Linked DNA regions of Homo sapiens: all the other regions are linked to region 5. The links come from fine-mapping of genetic effects on gene expression. A gene starts in region 5. Each other region holds a variant in brackets. All regions are shown on one strand. Distances are from middle to middle.

Region 1 (4,547 bases), 71 kb after region 5:
AGCTGCGGGCATGAGAGACAAGGGTGCAAAGGCTGCTCTCTAAAGCAGGTATCTCCTCTGGATCTTCACTTTTTTGGCCAATCATCACCTGCTCCTTTGACATCTCATCATCCCAATGATAACTCCCATTCCATCTTTCTTCCAGGACACTGCCTTCTTCCTCAGTCCCCACCTAAGCCCACTTAGGCATCAGCTTCCATCAGTTCTGTGGCCTAAAAAACGGTTAAATGTAGCCACTCCTCTCCATGGCCAGCCTCCACCCGAGTCCAGGCTACCATCATCTCTCACCTGGACTCCCAAAATAGCTACCCCAGGTGCTCTTCACATCTACTTTTCCATCTTCCCAGTCCATTGCCTGTACAGCAGCCAGAGGTACCTGTTCAAAATGCCTATCTCATCATGTCAGCTTGCATGAAATTCCCTTTGGCTTCTCCTTTCTCTTGGGATAAGGACCAAAACCCTCAAGATGAATCGCAAGGCCCTGCAAGGTCTGGCCCATGCCTCCCTCTTCACTCCCCACCTGGCTCTCTGCTCTCTGCCCCTAGGGAATCTGTTCAGTCCTGCTGATACACCAGGTTCCCTCTACCACAGGACCTTTGCACTGTCTACACTGCCTGGAATGTTGAGGCTGCAAGAAAACATGTGATCTCATCTGCACTCTCACTGAGGTACATCCTGAATGGTAAGAAACGTGGTATCTATCATTTAAATTTTCCATACCTTTTGATACAGTATTTCCACTTCTTTTTTTTTCCTTTTTTTTGCAAGACAGAGTCTCGCTCTGTGGCCCAGGCTGGAGTGCAGTGGCTTGATCTCGGCCCACCGCAACCTCCACCTCCTAAGTCCAAGCAATTCTCCTGCCTCTGCCTCCTGAGTAGCTGGGATTACAGGTACACACCACCACGCCCAGCTGATTTTTATACTTTTAGTAGAGACGGGGTTTTGCTCTGTTGGCTAGGCTGGTCTCAAACTCCTGATCTCAGGTGATCCGCCCATCTCACCCTCCCGAAGTGCTGGGATTACAGATGTCATAGTGAGCCAGCGTGAGCCACCACGCCCAGCCAGTATTCCCACTTCTCTGAATCTGTGCTTTAGAAATATGACCACAGGCTATATAAAAAGGTATGTAGAACAATTGTTTGCAAATCCTTATAATAGTGAAAATGGAAACGGTATGCATTTCAACAAGATATTAGTCAAATAAACTATAATGCATCCATAGCATGAAATATTATTCAGACATTAAAAAGAATGAGGTAGATTTCCTTGTGTTCATGTGAGAGGATATCCCAGATATATGAAGCTAAAAAACAAAATTCAGACGTGTATGATTCCCCTTTTATGCTTTAAAAATACATTGCATGTATATTTTTAAAAGTTACAAAAACGTGCACAAACTGGTTGACAGTGGCTACGTCTGGGGAGGGAGGATGAATTGACAGGGCATATTTTTTCCTATGTTATGTATTTCAGTAATATTTGATATTGCTATTTTATTACTATAATTTTATAATCTGAAAAAATCTAATACAGTGAAAAAGATATGTGTATAATTAAATCTGCCATGTCTATCTTCTCCCTAGAATGTCAGCTCTATGAAGTCATCAAATGTTTCCATCCTATTCACTGTTATTTACCCCAAAGCCTAGTCAGTGCCAGGCACATAATATGTGCTCATTAAGCATTTATTAATTGAATGAATAAACAAATAATGAGCTGTTTCTGTGACCCCATAAAATGTGATACCCACTCAGTCCTCCACAAACAGACCCCTGGCTACTTCCTCCCTGGAGTTGTACCCCACAGTTTAAAAAAGTTGTAAAAGTGCTTGACTTTTTTATGGCAGTCACATCATGCTACGTGCTGACACTCAGCTTCAGGGACTTCACACCAGTACCGCACTCAAATCAGGTTCCCATTCT[T/C]GACTTAGGCAAATACTTGTTCTCAGACCCAAGTCAGGACTTCACAGTTTGTCCCTGCTGAAGTTCATTGTTTTGTTCATGCCTGTCAAGGTATTTTGAAACTCAACCCCTGACTCTAACCCAGTACACATCCTACAAGCTTTATATTGCCTGCACATTTATGATGCATTACGTTTTCTTCCAATTTAATTATAAAAAATGAAAATTGTACAGGGCAGAGCCTAGGACAGAATCCCACAGCCCTCCCTGAGCAATGATATCCCTGTTGACTTAGAGGGGTCTGGGCCTTCTGTTTGCTTCTCACACACAGGAAGCTCATTCCCATCTCAAAGCCTCTGTGTTTGCCACTCATTCCACTTGGAATGCTCTCCCTCCAGATGGTAGCTCCTTCATGATCTTCAGGACTCAGCTCCAAGGCTTTCTCACCAGAAAGGGCTTCCTACTACCTAGTCTAAAAGGATCCCCGTCCGCCATTCCACATTATCCTGTTTTGTTTTCTTTAAGGCACTTGTCAATTGCTAAAGTTACCTTGTTCATATTTTTCATTTACCTATTTATTAGCTGCTCCTTCCCCCTACCCCAGTGTCAGTGGGGATATTGTCTGCCTTATCCACTGCTCCAGTGCCTGAAGCACTGTAGATTTGAGTAGTCAGTCAGTATTTCCCATGTGACTGAATAACAGACAGAGTTGGTCAAATACCTTGACACCTACTTGCACTGTCTTCTAGACCCACGTCTCCATTTTACCTGCAAGGATGGTCCTGGGACTACTGTATAACACATTTTCTTCAAGTTTGGAGGAGTCAATAAACACAAATTTATTCTCTCATAGTTCTGGAGGCCAGAAGTCCCATACCTGTTTCAGTGAGCCAAAATCAAGGTGCCAAAAGACCTCACTCCTCCAGCAGCTCTGCAGGGAGAATCTGTTCCCCACCTCTTCCAGTTCCGGCTGGCTGCGGTGTTCCTCAGTGTGTAGCTGCCTCACTCCAATCTCCATCGCTAGCATCTTTAAACCTTTCCTGCTCCATCTTTACATCGCCTATTCCTCTGCGTGTGTCATTATTTCTCTGTCTCCTTCTTATACAAGGATACATTTAATGGCATTTAGGGCCTAACTGGCTAATCCAGAATAATCTCTCCAACTCAAGATCCTTAACTTAATCACCTCTACAAAGCCTTTACCAAATAAGGTAACATTCATAGGTGTCAAGTATTAGGACCTGATATCTTCAGGGGCCACCATTCAGCCCAACAGAGGTTATTACTCATTTTGTGAAATGCCTTTGGAAAACTGAGACATACGATGTGTCCAGATTTCTCTTTTCCACCTCTCGGGTAGGGCCTGCCACAGAGGAGAGCTCTGTAAATGCTTCTTGAATGAGTAGATGAATAGAAGATGTTGTTCCACTCTACCATTCCCCACCCCAGCCCTCAAAAAGAGAAAAGAATGGGTCTATGACTCCTTTAGCATAACTGGTTTCCCCAGTTCACAGACCCTTGAGAAGCTAGGGGGTTTCGGAAATGGGGAAGCTCTTCATAACTGGTGGCCATCTGACACGCTGCCAATACCTATTGGGAGGGATACAGAATTACTGAATGAGCAACAAGACTAAAATTATTTACAAATGAGCTTTGCCCACTACAGAGGGTGTGGGCTTTGCTCATATTTGATTTCTCTCTCTCCCCAGCACTCTGAAGAGGGTTGTATTGTAGCCAAATTAGTTCTTTGGCTACTGAATAGGAGGATGGGAGAGGGAGACCAAATGGCACTGGATAGACAGAAGGAAATTAGTTTATCTTCTCCAAATAGAAGGGACCCCTGATGCACTTCACATAAAAGTACAGCATCTTGGGAGGAGGCCAATTAAACCCCTAACAGGGTCATTTCATAATAAAAACTATTCTCAAGCCCCTGGTCTGGACCCCAGAGTTGGATCAGAAACCTGGTTCTCTGCTGTTGGAGCAGGTTATTCTACAGTTAGCATATTTATTGCTCTTTCATAATTCCTTATCAAAACCAAACATTCACTCCTTGGTGCTCATCCCCAAGACACCCCACCCATGATGGAGTTCTCTTGATGTATCTACCTTCAAAGACAAAGAAGGGGTTGAGATTCACATGTGGTTCAAGCCAGCACACCAGCATAGGAACCCAGATGCAAACTCAGGCACAATGGTCCTAGCTAGAGCAGGATGTGCACTTGTGGGGCAGGCCCTCCTGACCATGGTGTGAAGCCTGGGGACGCCATTCCATGGAGAGCTGCTTGCTTTGGGGGAGCTACAACAGGCTGTAGCATTTTCTTGACTATGTATTAGAATCCTGGGTTGGTGCCACAGTTTTCTGGAAAACACATCAGTGCAATTATAAAGCACATCAATGGGACAACATGATATATTCAGCAACATTCTCAACAAACTAGTCCCTTTGACTCCCATTATAGCCTTCTATTATACAAATAGAGGCACGTGTGGTTTGTGGTTGAGGAAAAGAATGCTCATCGCTAGTTCTTACTTGCAGTGACTTATCTGTGAATTTCTAAAGTGCCTAAACCCCTTCTGAAGGATATAATGAACCACGGAAATGGAAACAAAAATTATCTCACCTATGTGCAATGCCCATACTAT
Region 2 (4,547 bases), 51 kb after region 5:
ATAAATGAGTTACCCCATCCCTGCGACAACCCAGGCACCACTAGGGTACAAAGACTCCTTGTCCAGGCAACGATGTGAACCCATGGGGACCCTGCTGCCCTCTGACAAGGAAACCCTAGGATATATGTCAACTTTCTGCAAACCACCAGCATAAATTTTCTTTAAAACCAAAGTCACAAATAATCTGCCCCCCCGCCCCGCCCCCACAATGGAAGCCTATGACCCATTTTGTTTTCATGTAACTCGGTCTTGGATAAAACAGGAGACAGAGAGAGAGATGTCAAGATGTTACAGCCAAAGAAGGAAACAGAGGAGAGATGCAGCCTTTGTTACTTTTTAATTGGAAAAAGATCTTATTTCAGACAGCAAGACATTTAAGAAAGCCATTAATTGTTTGTTGCTGTCACCAATGAGAAAAAGGTGAACAGGTAGGAAGCAGAGTTATAAAATTAGCTATCTTTAAAAGTTGAGGAGGAGTCCTTACTTCTAGCAGAGGCAGGTTACTGTATTAAATACTAATAAAGTATCAGTTAACAACGACTTCTCTAGTCCTCTTTACTGGTTAATCTCTTAGTTCTAATAAGATACTGCTTTATTGTCAGGGCACAGTTTCCTAACCTTTGTGCAGAGGACATTTAAGGAATCTAAGAATGCAAATATGCACCAAATAGGTGTAGCCGGATAAATTGGTCTCAAGCATATTTTTTAATTGCTGTTTTTGAAATTTATGTAGACATTATTGAAATTAAAATACGTATTTAAAAAGCATTACTGAATTCACAGCACCTTTTCATCGGCACACACTGTCCCAATCAATGGGTACCAAAGTACAAGTAGTATCACCTGGACATGCATGACCCTTTTCCTGCTGGAAAGAGTGAAAGCTAAGCTCAATAGTTTAGGAAGAGCCTATTTGTGTTCTTTGTCCTCCCATGAGCACTACAAATAGCTTTTCCTTAGTTCATATTGAGCTGGCTTTTCAGGAGCAGACAGGAAATCAGATGGGAGTGCAGGGAGAGACTGGGAGAAAAGAGCAATGATTTAGCTGCTCTTCTCGTTGTGTGGGAGAGGTCTACTTCCCACCTAGGAAAATCTTCATACATTTTTTTTCCTGCAAACAGAGTCCTCTGGGGCTGCCAACATCAGTGAAATAAAGTGTAATTTAGTTTATCTTGAAACCAAAACAACCCAAAACCCACTGCTATTATCAAAACTGAAGAATTATTGGGAACAGGGATTCCCTGAATTATTCATTGTTTCAAAAAGCAATTATTGATTTTCTACAATGTGCAAGGTTTGTAAACTGCCCTCAAGCAGTTTACGAAATAGTAGGGATGCCACCAAAAAAGAAATGGGGAAAAAATTTTAAGCATGCTCAAAAGTTGGACACAGTAATTTATTAGTTTATATTAAATTAAATTATGTACAATCTGTAAACCCTTTTTAAATGATGAAATTCGGTGCTGGCAAGTTGTTGAAAATGTACACCCACACCCTGCTGGTAGCAGTGTAAATTGGTACAATCCTTTACCAGAGCAATTTGATACTGCACTCAAGAACCTTAAAATGTTCACACCCCTTGATCCAGTAACTTAAAGGAAATATATTTTAAGAAAATAAGTCAAGGCCGGGTGTGGTGGCTCATGCCTGTAATCCCAGTACTTTGGGAGGCCAAGGTGGGTGGATCACGAGGTCAGGAATTTGAGACCAGCCTGACCGACACGGTGAAACCCCATCTTTACTAAAAATAGAAAAATTAGCTGGGCATGGTGGCAGGCGCCTGTAATCCTAGCTACTCGGGAGGCTGAGATAGGAGAATCGCTTGAACCCGGGAGGCGGAGGTTGCAGTGAGACGAGATTGTGGTATTGCGCTCCAGCCTGGGCATCAGGGCGAGACTCCATCTCAAAAAAAAAAAAAAAAGAAAAGAAGTCAAAGGAAATTAAAAGTTACGTGCAGAAATATTTTTACTATGTACAATTTCTAATATTGAAAACTTAGCAGTCAAAAGGCTTAATAGAGGAATATCAAAATAAATTACAGTAAGGCTATTCAATCAAATACTATGTAGTCATTAAAATGTCAATAATGAACTATAGAAACATAACGAATGCTGAAGATAAAGAAAATGCAGAGTATAAAATTATATCTATGCCTTAACTGTAGTTGAATAAAAATATATTCCTTATATTATCAAAGAGTAAGGACTACCCAGAAACATGGAAAAATCCAAACTATTTTATGATTCAAAATTATAGGTGAGTTTTATCTGTTTTTGTCTTAGAGTATATCTACATCATTATAAAGCTTGGTGCATAAAAAACATCTGAGCATGAGCGCAAAAAGGATTATTATTGGGCTCACCTGTTATCACTAACTCCTGATCCAAACGTATCTCTCCCTGGCTTATGAAGTTATTCTTCAACTTACCCTCAGGTGAAGGGAGAAAACTGAACTTATAGTACGAGATACAGCAGTACCAGGACTTTCATGCAGTTTAGACTGTTTCTCCTTTCCGGTCTA[G/A]AATGAGATGGAAAGAAAGGAATGATGACTAAACAGGGTCTGACACTGGTAAAGCTGGGAAATTGGCTGCTTCATGTGTGCCTCACAAAAACCCTCTGAAATGGTGTTCTTCACTTAGGAGAAAACATGCCCACAAGGGTTATGTGGTTTGCCCAAGGAGACACAGCTAGTTGGTAATGGAGCCAGTTTTCAAATCCTGGGCAGATCTGATTCTGAAAGCCTCCTCATTCTACTCTACATCCCCTCCCAAGCAAGTATGGGAGAAGATGAAGGCACATTGTTTATGATATGGGTCAAGTCAGTTTGCACCAAAGTCATTAACTCATTTGACCCTTGAGGTTTCAGGCCACTGTTTGAAATACTGATGGTATGTTAGAATCATCTGGGGATGTATTGAAAATTTTTTTGATGCCTGGGCCTTACCTCCAGAGATTTTGATTTAATTGGTCTCGGGCGCAGCTAAGACAAGGATAAGACATAAAACTCTCCAAGGATAGGATGGCTCAATCAGGGCTGAAAACCACTGGTTTAGGCCCTTTGCATTTCCAACCTCTATCCTATAAACCTTTCAACTGGTCCCATGATGGGAGTTAAAACAACACTCCATTCACTCTTTTAATTTTTTATTGTGATAAAATAGGCATTACATAAAACTAACTTTTCTTTTCTTTTTTTTGAGACAGAGTCTCACTTTGTTGCCCAGGCTGGAGTACAGTGACACAATCTCAGCTCACTGCAATCTCCGCCTTCCAGATTCAAGTGATTCTCCTGCCTCAGCCTCCTGAGTAGCTGGGACTACAGGCGTGTGCCACCACGCCCAGCTAATTTTTGTATTTTTAGTAGAGACGGGGTTTCACCATGTTGGCCAGGCTGGTCTTGAACTCCTGAACTCAGGTGATTCCCCTGCCTCAGCCTCCCAAAGTGCTGGGATTACAGGCGTGAGCCACCGTGCCCAGCCAAAACTGACCATTTTAAAGTGTACAATTCAGTGGTACTGAGTACATTCACAATGTTGTGCAACCATCACCACTATCTGGTTCCAGAACTTTTTTTTTAATCACAATGGGAAAAACACAGTTAGTCACTCCTCATTCCTCCCCTTCCCCCAGTTCCTGGCAACCATTAATCTGCTTTCTGTCTCTATGAATTTGCGTATTCTGGTCATATGATATAATCACACAATATGTGGCCTTTTGTAGATGGCTTCTTTAGGTAAGGATCGTATTTTTTTTTCCAACCTGAAGCAGAATGGATAGCATAATGTTTTCAATGTTCATCCAGTTGTAGGTGTATTAAGACTTCATTCCTTTTTATGGGTGAATAATATTCCTTGTATGGATATACCATGATTTGTTTATTCATTCATCAGTTGATGGACATTTGAGTGGTTTCCACATTTGACTTCCATTCACTCTTCTTTCAAATCTGAGGTTCCTCAGGACACACCTTTACAAAAAGAAGAACTAGAGAGGAAGAGTTTTATAAGTTAACAATGGGACTGTAGAGTGAACCTGCGATTCGAAAGTGGGATCTCCCAACCAGCAGCACCCGTATTACTTGGGGACTTGTTACAAACGCAAATCCTTAGGCCCCCCACAGACCTACTGAAGGCACAAACTCTGGGGATGGGGCCCAGCACTCTGTGTTTTCATAGCCCTCCAGGTGACTCAGACCCAGGCTGAAGTTTAAGAACCACTGGTGTTGGCTGGTCACGGTGGCTCATGCCTGTAATCCCAGCACTTTGGGAGGTCAAGCCAGGAGGATCACCTGAGGTCGGGAGTTCGAGACCAGCCTGGCCAACATGGTAAAACCCCGTCTCTAATAAAAATACAAAATTAGCTAGGCGTGGTGGCACATGCCTATAATCCCAGCTACTCGGGAGGCTGAGGCAGGAGAATCACTTGAACCTGGGAGGTGGAGGTTGTGGTAAGCCGAGATCACACCATTGCACGCCAGCCTGGGCAAAAAGAGAGAAACTCCATCTCAGAAAAAAAAAAAAAAAGAACCACTGGTGGAACCAACACTA
Region 3 (4,547 bases), 63 kb after region 5:
GACTATTTCTTCCTCTTCGAGACGGTACATACTGTCGAGGACACATATATTAGATAATGGATCTGGCCCATGTTCGTCTTAACAAATTATACTGTCTCACTAGTGTTTGTTCTTCTACTGCTGGGCTAAGTGTTTGAATTTCACTTTCATTTAAGATTTAAGGCTGGACATTATACTCCAAAATCATTCCTGGCCTTTATTGATTAGCACTGATATAGTGCATCCAAACTGAAGATATATGACACCCAAGTCACACTGGGTTTTCAGGCCCTGTTTTTCATCTATGAATAAGCACACTGAAAGAGTTTTGTTTAATATTATTGAAGTTGAAGCATGTCATGTTCATTTACTGATATGTAATTCATTATGAGCAAATGCTGACTCTAAACGTGAAGTCACATGAGGTGTACTCCCTGTGATTCTATGCTATTTAGAAATGATCCCTTCTGTGGCCGGGTGTGGTGGCTCATGCCTGTAATCCCAGCACTCTGGGAGGCCAAGGCGGGTGGATCGCAAGATCAGGAGATCAAGACCATCCTGGCTAACACGGTGAAATCCCATCTCTACTAAAAAATACAAAAAATTAGCTGGGCGTGATGGCAGGCGCCTGTAGTCCCAGCTACTTGGGAGGCTGAGGCAGGAGAATGGCATGAACCCGGGAGGCGGAGCTTGCAGTGAGCCGAGATCATGCCACTGCACTCCAGCCTGGAGACTCCATCTCAAAAAAAAAAAAAAAAAAAAAAGAAAAGAAAAAAGAAATGATCCCTTCTACTAAGTATTTTTGAATATTTCAAAATACAAAAAATTAACCCCAGATAAATAAAATAAAAATGTTTGCTCTTTACCAAATTGCCATATTCCATCTTATTTGGAAAAGTCATCAATACTTCACAATCATCAATGCCAGATGCCAGTGAAAGTGGTGTGGATGGGGTATATAAATAGCAGTCATTAATATTTCTTAGAATGCTAATGACATTTTGTCTTCCCAGATAAGTCAGAGTCTGAATACATAAGTCACCAAAGCACAGTTTGTCATAGAATTCTGACATAAAACACTATCCAAGCAAGTTTCCCAAATAAACAAATTATCTGGAGTGTTTACTGCTCCCACGATCCACTTAACAGCTTCATGAGTAGCCAATAGGAAACAGCAATGGGGATCTTTCTGCACCCAGGAAATAGGTATTTGCCAATAAGAATGAGAGCAACTTGAAAGGGAGAAATTCCGTGCTAAATATAATTTCTGTGCCCATAAAACATCTAACAGAGCACCGTCAGAGGAGTGTATATTCGAGAGAATGAGAAGACAAGCTACAGACTGGGAGAAAATATTTACAAAAGACATCTGATGAAGAATTTTACCTAACACATACAGAGAACTCTTAAAAACTCAACAATAAGAATACGAACAACCCAGTTGAAAAACTGGCAAAAGATCTGAATAGACACCTTATAAAAAAAGACACAGTTTATTGTCACCTAATTCTGCTCCTGGTGCTTTCAGGGGTGAAGACTCTGTGTGAGTTCCTTGGTTATAGAGAGTCTTTGTATGGTGGCTTTCTCAGCTGCTGGTTGTAGCAGCAATGTGCTCACTGTCTCCTGTGGGGTCAGAATGGCAGAGGTCTCTCAAAGCTTATCTTGTTCTCCAGTAGTATGCATTTTTTAATTTTTTCCCTAGCACTTTATTTACTGGGTTGAACAGGTTGAGCTTCCAGCCAGAAGGGGAGGTGTCCACAGGTAAAAACCGATTGTGGTGTCCGGGCACAATGGCTCACGCCTGTAATCCCAGCACTTTGGGAGGCTGAGATATGCAGATTGCTTGAGCTCAGAAGTTCGAGACCAACCTAGGCAACATGGTGAAACCCTGTCTCTACCAAAAGTACAAAAATTAGCCAGGCATGGTGGTACAGACCTGTAATCCCAGCTACTTGGGAGGCAGAGGTTGCAATGAGCTGAGACTGTACCACTGCACTCCAGCCTGGGTGAGAGAGTGAGGCCCTGTCTCAAAAAAAAAAAAAAAAAATTGGTGGCTAAAGCAAAGTGGGTAAATGCAATACCCAATGATGGGTAGAGGTCCCAGCC[C/G]TAATAGAGGCAGCTGAGGGAGCTCTCAGTGAAATGCACGGAGGTCTTCTCAGAAGGAAGGGACGGACACCTCAGCTCCCCTGAAAGTGATCCACCTCCTAGTCACACTCCTGACCCAGTGTCCCAGCTATTCAGATCAGACAGACACCTCTTTTCATCTGCAGGAAGGCTGATGTTCCATGTTGAGATGGATTGTGACTCTACCCCTCGCGCAAGCCTGCAACTGGAGGGCACGCTGCCTGTGGAGAGGCAGCCCCGCTGAAGTGTTCAGGAAAGGCTATCCACAGGTGCACCCCATGGAACACTACTCAGCCATAAAAAAGAATAAAATAATGTCTTTTGCAGCAACTTGGATGCAGCTGGAGGCCATTTATTCTAAGTGAAGTAACTCAGAAATGGAAAGCCAAATACCATATGTTCTCACTTATAATTAGGGGCTAAGCTATGGCTATGCAAAGGTATACACAGTGGTGTAATGAACTCTGGAGACTCAGAAGGAGGTAAGGGGGAGGTGGGAGAGCAATGAAAAACTACATATTGGGTACACTACTTGGGTGACAGGTAAAATAAAATCTCAGATTTCACCACTATACAATTCATCCATTTAACCAAAAACCAACTGAACCCCAAAAACTATTGAAATAAAAAATATATATTTATATAGCTATATATAGATATATAGCTAGCAAAAAAGCATATAAAAATGCTCCATAGCATATGTCATTAGGGAAATGCAAATTAAAACAATGAGATACCCCTACACACCTATTAGAAAAGCCAAAATCCAAAACACCAACAATGGCAAATGCTGGTAAGGATGTGGAGCAACAGGAACTCTCACTGACTGCGGTGCAGATGCAAAATGGCACAGTCACTTTGGAAGACAGATTGGCAATTTGTCACAAAAATAAATAGATTCTTACCATACGATCCAACAAGCATGCTCCTTGGTGTTTACCCAAAAGAGTTGAAAACTTATGTCCGTACGAAAACCTGGATGTGGATGTTTATAGCAGCTTTATTCATAACTGCCCAAACTTGGAAGCAACCAAGACATCCTTCAGTAGGTGAACAGATAAGTAAACTGCCGTACATCCAGACAATGGAATATTATTCAGCTCTAAAAAGAAATGAGCTGTCTCAAGCTACAGAAAGACATTGAGGAAACTTAAGTGTATATTGCTAAGTGAAAAAGCCAATTGGAAAAGACTACATACTGTTAATTTCAACTTTGCAACATTTTGGAAACGGCAAAACCATGGAGAAGGTAAAACAAAACAAAAAAAAGGTTGCCAGGGATTAGAACGGTGGGAGGAATGCCTAGGTGGAACACAAACTATTTGTAGGGCAGTAAACTACTCTGTATGATACTATAATGATGGATACATGTCATTAAAAATGTGTCCAAACCCACTGAATGTACAACACCAAGAGTGAACCCTAATATAAATGGTGGACTTTGGGGGATAATGAGGTGTCAGTGTTGCTTCATCAACTCTAACAAATGTACCACCTCTGGTGGGGGATGTTGTTAGTTGGGAGTCTATGCAAGTGGGTGGGTATATGAGAAATCTCTGTACTATCTGCTCAGTTTTGCTGTGAACCTAAATCTGCTCTAAAATACAAAGTCTATTTTTAAAAGCATATGTTCAATAAACTCAATTAATATATTTAATGAACTACTTGTATGTGAAATGATAACTTAAGTTGCACATATGGCAATTTCAAAGCCTCTACACATTTGGTTAAAATGGTTATTATCCAAAGACCTTAAAAACAACTATATGCAACTCAGCTCTACTATTCTGCCCACAGAAAAATGCCACCCCCGGGTCAAACAACCAACCACAACCAAATTAATTTTGCCAAGTAATGGCAAAGGCTCAATCAGCGCCAACTCCAACTAGAAATGCCACCATATGCCTCCATTGTCCTGGAAGGTGGTCTCAGGCTCTGAAAAGCAGAAAGTAATGTGTCTCCACTGAATGCAGTCACGGAAATAGACCAAAGAAGTTTCTGTAATCCTGGAAACAAAGCTAGACATACCATTTCAGTATAAAGGGCAGATTCTGAACAGCCCAAACACTATCAAACACCATTATCAATGCCACACCTATAGAGTTCACAAGACACACACCATTTGTGGGAGGTGTAGCAGGAAAGTCCTTATGAAAAGATCAGTGCCTCTCGTCTGAAATTAAAGACATAAATGTGGGAGAACACCTTATGCAAACAATTTCTCTTCTAGAGATTAGAAAGGCATTTTCTTGCTGGTCAGAAAGATGCTACACAACTACCGTCAGCTAAAAGACTTAAAAAAAAAAACCACATAGGGAAAATAATTTTACCATGCCTCAAGAGTTCTGAGAAGTTCATGAACATCAAAATAAAAAGTGTACATAGTTTATGCATCAGGGTATGCATTGGAGTTTGGAAGTTCAAATTAAAAAAAAAATAAAAAG
Region 4 (4,547 bases), 58 kb before region 5:
AAAAAACTCCATTGGCTTTTTTTCTGCCATATCTGGGCATAACCCAGGGACGAATATAGCCATTGTCTCTCACCGAGACAGCATAAGCCACGAAAGTTGTTTTTTTAAATGCCTTGTAGGCTTTTCAGTGTTTTCTCAACTACAAGCTGCCACTGCCAGAGCAGTGGGCTGATATCACAGCAAAGCCTCAAGTTCAGCATCTGCTTCCTAGAGCTGGAGACAGATAACAAACAAGTTACGGAGGTTTCAGGATTGGAGATGTCACAATCAGGTCATGCTCTGAGCCCAAGAAAGGTGGGAACTCCTCACTCAGGAGAGCCTACCAGCTCCTCCCACAAGGAAAGTCCTAGGGTTGCCATATGCCTCCATTCACTGGGGTCATATTGACTCGAGCATGGGAGAGAGAAGCATGAACCAGCTCCTGGCAAGACTCTGAGAAGAAGCTGGCCACCTCCATAGTGGGTTCTCTAAGGTTCTGATTATCTTCCTTCTGGCATGCTGCAGGTATCAGGCTGCTGACCAGGGGTGCAGCTTCTACTAGGAGGAGGAGGAGGAGGAGGAAGAGGAGGAGGAAGAAAGGGGACAGATGAGTCAGCATAGATGCAAGCCAGTTCCTCCAAGGGGCAGGGAAGATAATCCTGTTGTCAGATTCAAGGCTCTCCCTTCCTTCTCCAGGCCAATTCTGTGATAGCACCTGGTCATTTTCTTCCTACCCTTTCCCACAGTCTGTATTTACTTTGTCAATTTGAATACTTGTTTGTAATCTATCTCCCCCTCTAGATCAGTGGCTCTCAGACTTTAATGCACATTAGAATTCCCTGAAAGGCTGATTGAAAACACAGCTCACTGGACCCCACCTCCAGAGCTTCGGATTCATTAGGTTAGGGGATAGAGTTGGGGATTCCAGGTTCCAGCATCCTTCCCTGGAGGTCATGGTGATGATCATGGTTGGGTAACCTATAACTTTAATAATCTAGGCTGGGCCTGAGAATTTGCATTTCCAACCAGTTTCCAGGTGGTGCTGATTCTGATGGTCTAGGGACCGCACTTAGAGAATCACTCGCCTATACAATAAGCTTTCTGAGAGCAGGGATCATTTTTGGCTTGTTTGCTAAAGTGACTGGCACACTATAGGCATTAAATCGATATTTGTAGATTGGATGAATTTTTTTGGAGCGGAGGTGGGGTGTAGGGTACAGATTGGTACCTGGTGATTCTTCAAAAGATGTGGGAAAGAGCACCCAGCAGTAAGCAAGCAACCTAATTTCATGGATATTGACTTGCAAAGACTCTTCTGAACAAGCAGAGAGGGGTTGTGAAGGTAGCAACTGGCAGCATGCCCATGGAAATCAGCTCCTGTGCCACAAGCCACACAGATGGTTGAGGTCTGATCTCTCACAAGTCTCTGCACAAACAACACACTCTTCTCTACCAGAACAGGAAATGTTAGTGGTTGAGTTAGCGGTTATGAGTCTGAGGTCTCACCAGATTTTTGCCACCCTGCAGCTACTCCAGTCCAGCCCATGGTTGCCATTTTTGGCAACATCCTAATACCTCAACTCTTCAGTCCACCCCACATACCTCCAGGCCGGGGAAAGAAGTCCATCAACATAACTCACAAGGGAATGTGCCTGGGGATTCCAGGTCCTAAAGCCCTTACCCTGGGGGTCGTGGTGATGATAGTGGTTGGGTGGGGAATGACTTTAATACTCAGTGTCACTGTTCCTGTCTCAACAAGAGCCTCCGCTTTCTTCCTGTCAGACATCAAGTTGTCATCAGTTACGTAGACAAGTAGCTTGTAGTCCCAGATCTTATCAAACCCACCAGCATAGTCAAAGCGAGATGTAAGCAGCAGGCGTGTGAC[A/G]TTGGAACCAGCATTGGGAGAGAAGGTGAAATGATTGTTGACGTTACCTAAATGAGATTTGATGCAGGGGTGTTGGTAAAAGGAAGAAAAGAGAGTAAGAAATAAAGGTTTAGAAGAAAACTGCATTCAATCTTTTTCTCAAATGTCCACACCTCAAGTGTAGACTGTGTCTCTGATACACCAGAGCTGGATTAGTTATATGCTACAGGCTTTAACTGCACCAGAGATGGCATTAGTACAAAGAAACTCTTGCTCACAACCAGTGTGGCTGCAAACAAGGCTGAGTAGAAAAGGACAATAGTACAACACCCTTAGCCTAGGTGCCATCTTGCTGAGTATTAAGCAGAGACTTTGTAACCCTGGTGCAGCCCCTTCTGATTTCTCATCCGGCAATTATTTGGTAACAACACGTGTAATTCACACTCAAACAAATGAGTGGGTTTCAAGAGGGTAGAATAGGTCACATCCCTAGCCATAGGCCAAGTTCACTGCATGCTTTTCACAGGACCCAGTGGGTCACACTGGTTATGGCTGTCCCTGGAGTCCTCCAAAGGAAGGTGCCTCCTGGCTTTGCGGGAATTGCAGTCCCAGGTCCTCCTGAACCCACCCCATCACACCCCCAAACACACACACAGCTCTGCTGGGGCTCATGGCTCAGCTCAGGGAGCCTGGGGCAGAGAGGCTGCCAGCCCAAGCACATGCCCGCTCATTCCTCCACTGGCTCCAGACTCATTACCGACTGAACACCAGTAAATGGAGCAGGAGATGATGCAATTTTTGCTCCCTTAACAGCAAAATGCTCCATAAAGGCCTTAGGGCTCTCAGTATGGATTGTTTCCATCTTCGGCAACTGCAGTCTCGAGGCAGTTTCTGCCCCTGGGTTTTGTGACACAGCCAGCTCGAGAGGCTTCCTACTGTTCAAGTTCCTGCTCGGCCAAGGGCACAGCAGGCAGCAGGGATGGATTTTTACTCTCTCACGTGGAATTGTTCTGCTTGTTTGGGTTTAAATCTCTGGCCCCAGCACTTCATTAGATGAGCTATTTTGGTCTAATTTCCATTGAGGGGTGCTCTTTTTTCCCTACGATGGTATATTTTTAAAGACAGAAGATGAATGGAGCAGAAGAGAATTCCTGAGGACACGTTTCAAAACGCACTTAATCTATTTAATCTATTATTATCCAGAGAGAGGACTGGGATTCCCTGCCCCCACTACCAGCTTTCAGGAAAAGAGGTGGTCGAAAAGTTGGACTGCATTTTTTCTAACAACACTAATATGCTTTATGACTCATACTGTAGTCAGGAATTGGGGGGTTCACCCTTTTCTTGGGCCTTTGGGCAGTCACGTATGGGGTCTGGGAGGAGTAAGACAAGAAGGGGAAACTGAGAGGAGTGCCAGGAAGCATAGGGGCTGCTAGATTTTGTGTCTCTGCTTTCCTCATTCAAATACTTCCCCAGCAAGCTGGGTGCAATGAGGCATGCCTGTAGTCTCAGCTACTTGGGAGGCTGAGCAGGAGGATTACTTGAGCCCAGGGGTTCAAAACTAGCCTAGGCAGCATAGCAAGACCCTATCTCAAAAAAATAATGCCCTCCCAACTCCCATCCCACTTTGCCCAGATCAGTGTGTGAGCACAGACCCCTACCCTAGACAACTTCAGGGTCCTCAGAGACAGGGCCAGGATTGTCGACACCAAGTACTATACCTGGGCCAATGGAATAACGGAAAGATCTGGGGCTGGAATCAAGGTCGGTACATGTCAGCTTGAAATTCTGAATATTTGTGCCAACTTTCAGATCCACTGGGAGGGCCAGGAAATAAGAGTTTGGAGTACAAATTGGCTTTTCATCATTTTCTTCAAGGATGTTCACAGTAACCTAGAGTAGCAAGAAGGTGGTCATTCTCAATAGCTAAAACTCATTGAGTGCTTACTGTGTGTAGGCAGTTTTCAGGCTAAGCACTTTTCATAAATTAGCTCATTTAAACTCACATGAGATAGCTAACATGATTATTCCCATTTTATGGTGAGAAAATGGAAGTTTAGAGAGACTAGGTAATTGATCTAAGATCATTCAGCTAGTGAATGGCAGAGTTGGGATTTGAATTCAGGTCTGTCCTACTCCAAATCCTATGCTATTAACTTCTACACCATATGCATGTGTGTGTGCACATTTAGTGTATGTATACCTTGCCCCCCCCCCACACACACACACATGCACCTGGACACATAGGCTCACCTGCAGATGACACCGAGTTGTTTTTCCAGGAAGGTGTGGATTTACGGTGTCTCCATGTGCCACCTTGCCTGCTGCCCCTTGTAAATGGAACTTCTTTAACTCTGGCATATGCAGAAATGGTTCTCAGCCCTGGCTCTGCTTTCTTGGGCCCACTTCAGAACCAATAGATTGGAGGGTGGGGGTCAGGGCCCTCATTGATGTTCCCTAGCTGATTCTAATATGCAGCCAGGGCTAAGACTCACTGGGACAGAACAAGCAGGCCTGGTTAAGCTGGGATCTCATCTGTAACCTGGGCTATTAGCACTGTACTAAGCCCTAGAGCTAACCTGCCATAAGCAGGGGCCAGCCTATTCTCTTTCATCGCTGTCTTTTATGCCTGGTAAATTGGAATATAGCCTGGGATGCCTGCCAGCACAGAATCATAGAATGTCAGCCCTGAAAGGGACTTGTG
Region 5 (4,547 bases):
AGCAATAAGATATATGAAATCTGTTATTGCAGGGCTGACATTCTAGTTGAGGAGGCAGAAATGGCCATATAACAGATGAATTACAGTATGATAGCTCATGCTACTTTTGGCTGAGCACTGAATCTGCATTAGGTGCTGGACTGAACTCTTTGCAGGCAGTCCATGTGCAGGCAAGAGGAGCTCCAGGGTGCAACAGCAGGAGCACTCCCCAGGAGCTAGGTCAATCCAGGAAGACTCCATGGGGGGGGGTGGGGCTTGAGTTGGGCCTTGAAGGAAGCATAGGAGTTAGAACACATGAAAGGAAAGAGGATACTCTATGTTACTTTATTTATTTACTTATTTTGAGATGGAGTCTCACTCTGTCGCCCAGGCTGGAGTGCAATGGCGCAATCTCAGCTCACTGCAACCTCCGCCTCCTGGGTTCAAGCGATTCTCCTGCCTCAGCCTCCTGAGTAGCTAGGATTATAGGCACCCGTCTTCATGCTCTGCTAATTTTTTACTGTATGTTACTTTATTTGAGATTATTATAGTGATGCCTGCTTCCAACAGCCTGAAGGGGTGCTGATGTGGCTGCCCCGCTAGAAGCCTCTGTAGCCCAGGTGTTGGAGTGTGAGGGTAATGACCAGGTTCTCAGACTCACAAAAGAAACAGTTTGTGTCACAGTAGCCCTTCCAAAAACAAGATTTGACCTAAGGGATTCTATTGTGTGTTTTAAATAAGAAATCTCAAGTATTTCTTGCAAACCTTTGTGATCTATCCCTTTCACACTTCTGATAAAATTCCAAATGATAGTGTTCAGTATAAGAAATTGGGTTCTTCCTAACCTCACTCTTTCCCCAGTGACAATAAAAGTCACCTCGACTCAAATGATTGTGGCCCTAAAAGCCCATATTTCTGGGGGAAATCTGAAATGTTTACTTCAAGTGACAGTCTGAACTGCTCATGGCCCACTTCACATTCACAGGTCATCCTGCCCTCTGCTGAGTTGAAAAGCCCAAGATAGAAGAGGGCTCAATATTAGGAAACCCAGTTATTTATTTATCTTATTAGCAGATCGAAGAGGAAAATTAAATGGTCATTTTCATAGATCTTGAAAAAGCGTTTGATTTAAAAATCCATTTTTATTTAGAAATAAGTACTTGAATATTCTTACATTTAGTTTTATTATATTTTTATTTAGAAATAAATACTGTAATATTCTTATATTAATAAGAATAAAAGCCACCTCCTTAACATATAAAACATTTCTCTCTCACACCAAAAGTTAACATCATGCTTAATGGGAAACAAGACAGGAATTTACACTCTTGTCATTATTTAATAATGGTCAGAATGTCCAGGCCTGGCAGTTAGATAAGAAAAAAATAGGAGCTATAGACATAGGAGAAGAAGAATATAAATGTTCATTTTTTCAAACGTGGAAAATTCATGAGAATCACCTGAAAAACCATGCCAAATAATAAGATAATTTGTTAACAGATTTCCATACATCATACAATAATCAGTTGAAAGATGTAGGGAAGAAGAGATTCCATTTACAAATGTAAAAAAAGAAAAAGTAAAAGAACTAGAAATAACCATAATAAGAATGTACCAAATCTATATGAAGGAAACCTCAAAATACTCCTAAGAAAAACAAATGAAGACTCAAACAAGTATCTAGAACCCTGTTCTTGGATTAGGAAGACTCAAGATCATAAATAATACTCACTAACATTTACTAAGCATTTACTATGTACTCAGACACTCTTCTAAGTATTTTACTACATAACTTGTCAAAGATGTAAATTATCCCTAAATTAATTTGCAAATTTAACATAAATTCAATATATTATGCATATACTACCTATTCAGAAATAAAATTTAATTTTAAAATCTCAATTTCAATAATCCAAGCTGACATTAAAAAGATCATCTAAGATTCTTGATGCCCTTGAATGAGGAAGAGAGAGTAAAATGATCACTAGCTTGAGTCTTTGACCCTTCTATCAGAAGGTGTTTTCTTTGCTCAAGAGGAAGACACCCCCTCAGTAACTCACTTTCCTCAAAGGATCACTTGTCAACCTCAAGTTGCCCTACGAGCCTCCAGAAAAGGGCCAGAATCTCCACAAAGACTCACTTGACATACTCACAAAGCTCTGCTATGAACACTATTTTCCCAACCTTAAATCTCAGGAGGACTACCAAATGCAGGCCAGTTAACCCAAGAGGGAAAGTGAAGTCTACACCAACATAGATTAGATTAGGCTCTTTAAGCATCTCTCTTTTCCAGGGCTCCTACCTGGTCCCCCAGGGCTCCCTGGAGCGGCATCACCTCATTCATTACTGCAGCTAAGCCCTCAATTGAACAAGCCTCCCAGGGGCAATTTCCTTTCTGGGGGACATTGTCATTCAATGGTATTATGCAGACCAAGTAGGCAAGCAAGGTTCCAAAGCAAAATTGAGTTCCTACCTGACATGGCACCCAGGAGAGCCAGGAGAATGATTGCTTCCTGCATACTTGATGGTCACAACTGTGCGTGCTTCCAGCACATTAGCCACAGCCTGAATCCCGTCTCACACCCAAAGTTTATTCCAGAAGCCACTCAGCTTCCCCTCCTGGTTTTGTTGCCATGCAAGAAATCAAACAGAGGCTTTGGCGGTAGCCAAGGGAGACTCCAAACACCACAGGACTGTTTGTTCTTTGATTACCTGCTTCTGTGACTGCATAGCACCCAAGAGACCAACCAGCCAGTCCTGGTCAGCTCAGAGTTTACCTTAAAAGTCCACACTCACCAAGTGTCTCAACCAAGAGCTCCAAAAGAGAAGTCAAAAGAGAAAACCGAGACACGGAGACCACACTAAGAGCTGGACGTGCGTAGTCCACCCATGATGGTCTCGGTCGCCCTGTAGCCAGGCTTGTGGTCATTTCCAGAAACAGGGGTGGGAAGTGGGAGTTTTTCTGCTGTCCTGAATCAATGAGTAGGATTCAGACTTGGGAATTAACTGGCACTCGTTCTAAAGACAAGATCTGAGAGCTGGGAGCAGACCCCTCCTCGAGGCTGACTTGAGGTGGAAGACTGCCCTCTGACTCCACCCCCCACCACCGCCCCTCCAGCCCTCGAAGAAGGCTGTGAAGGAAGGTTACTGGAGTGGTGAGGCTTCTGCCCACTGGGGAGTGATGCAGGTCTTGCCCTTCACGATGCCTTTCTGTTCCACACAGCCCTGTGCCAGGGCACAAGATGTGGCATGTGAACAAACGCGGGCTGGGGTCTAGTCTCCACTGAGAAGGAGCAACAGCAGAGCAGAGAGAGAACGGCCGAGCAGTGGCCTGTCCCCTTGACATGGTGCAGTAAGAGAAGTAGTGGGCACAGTGGAAGGCAGCTGGGCTTGGACCACCTCTCCCATTCCTCTGCCAGCTAGGGGAGGAGAGGCCAGCAGCCCAAGGCTGGGGGCAGGAATGCAGTGAAGAAGGTGGGGAGTTGAGTCAGAGCCTCCCAGTCTGGACGAGACCCCACAGGCGCTCTGAAAACTACACATGCCCCACAGGTGAACCAGCTTTTAGCACCTGCTACACGGAGGTCACCAACGAGGGATAGAGGGAGACAGTGTTATGGAACCAAACTGGGTCCACTCACCCTGTGCAGTAAAACCGGATATCCACACCGAGGTTTTTGCAGCAATAGAAAGGAAGGCATTTATTTGCAAGGGTGCCAAGCAAGAAGGGCTCAGAGAGTGAGGGGTTTGACCCAGGCTGCGCCACCTGCCAGTGTCCCCTGTGTCCCCTGCGTCCCAAACCTAGGGTGGCAAGGCTGCCCTTCCCTTCCACCACATCCAAACATTTGACAAGCCCTTTCCAGCCTCCAGGGCCTGCTGCCGGGCCCCTTCCCATGCTTGTTGCTACTGCCCTGGCTTAAGGTCCTTGCCTCTGGCCTGGGCTCTGGCCCGCAGCACATCCTACAGAAACTTAGGTTAATTTCCCCAAAGTACAATTTTGGTCATTTACTTTCCTGCTCAAAATAACAAGAACCTTTCCCTTAAGAAAAGTTGACTTTTCTTGTGTAAAGCATGAAGGAAAGGTAGTAAGATTAGGAAAGCTAGTCGATAGGTCTCTGTTCGAAGCACATAGATAGTAACAACAACAACAAAACAAAAGGGAGTGTTGCTGTGTCACCTTTGGCAATTTACCTAACCTTTCAGAATCTCAGTTCCACTCACTTCTGTAAATCAGGGAAAATAATACCTGCTACACAGTATCATCGCAAGCGATACACAAGAGAAAGAAGTGAAAGAAACTGGCCCATACTATGTGTTTTAAAAATACTTTTTTTTTTTTTTTTTTTTTTTTTGGAGACAGGATCTCACTGTCACTCTGTCTCCCAGGCTAGAGTGTAGCAGCGCGATCATAGCTCATTACAGCCTCAATCTCCTGGACTCAAGCAATCCGCCCACCTCAGCCTCTGGAGCAGCTGGGACCACAGGCGTGCACCACCACACCAGGCTAATTAAAAAAATTTTTTTTTTAGAGAGGACGTCTCCCTATGTTGCCCAAACTGGTCTCAAACTTC

Alleles and levels. Alleles are on the strand shown, and positions count from the first base shown. SD is a standard deviation of normalised expression in the study named. Not every link is listed here.
In carriers of allele C in region 1, the expression in esophagus mucosa of the gene that starts at base 2,553 in region 5 tends to be lower than with T alone (small effect, 0.27 SD a copy in GTEx).
With allele C in place of G in region 3, the expression in putamen of the gene that starts at base 2,553 in region 5 is lower (small effect, 0.34 SD a copy in GTEx).

The links. PIP is the estimated chance that this variant, and not a neighbour inherited with it, causes the effect.
Region 1: its variant is the best candidate, but not a certain one, in a credible set for the expression of CDHR3 in esophagus mucosa (GTEx, PIP 0.82).
Region 2: its variant is the best candidate, but not a certain one, in a credible set for the expression of CDHR3 in whole blood (TOPMed, PIP 0.89).
Region 3: its variant is the best candidate, but not a certain one, in a credible set for the expression of CDHR3 in putamen (GTEx, PIP 0.54).
Region 4: its variant is the best candidate, but not a certain one, in a credible set for the expression of CDHR3 in whole blood (TOPMed, PIP 0.60).

The regions. Positions count from the first base shown.
Region 1 is chr7:105,890,382-105,894,928 of GRCh38, reverse strand. No RefSeq gene overlaps it. Among named protein-coding and RNA genes, the nearest start is that of ATXN7L1, 16 kb to the right of the region's middle. The variant T/C (reference allele first, on the strand shown) is at 1,923.
Region 2 is chr7:105,910,454-105,915,000 of GRCh38, reverse strand. No RefSeq gene overlaps it. Among named protein-coding and RNA genes, the nearest start is that of ATXN7L1, 36 kb to the right of the region's middle. The variant G/A (reference allele first, on the strand shown) is at 2,522.
Region 3 is chr7:105,897,867-105,902,413 of GRCh38, reverse strand. No RefSeq gene overlaps it. Among named protein-coding and RNA genes, the nearest start is that of ATXN7L1, 24 kb to the right of the region's middle. The variant C/G (reference allele first, on the strand shown) is at 2,086.
Region 4 is chr7:106,019,562-106,024,108 of GRCh38, reverse strand. CDHR3 (cadherin related family member 3) reads right to left here. Exons shown (of 19, transcript NM_152750.5): 13 at 3,565-3,736; 14 at 1,661-1,911. Among named protein-coding and RNA genes, the nearest start is that of CDHR3, 59 kb to the right of the region's middle. The variant A/G (reference allele first, on the strand shown) is at 1,865.
Region 5 is chr7:105,961,270-105,965,816 of GRCh38, reverse strand. It overlaps CDHR3 (cadherin related family member 3), which reads right to left and starts at 2,553. Exons shown (of 19, transcript NM_152750.5): 1 at 2,453-2,553. The coding sequence starts at 2,498. RefSeq lists a silencer at 2,220-2,514 and enhancers at 2,097-3,048, 3,049-4,000.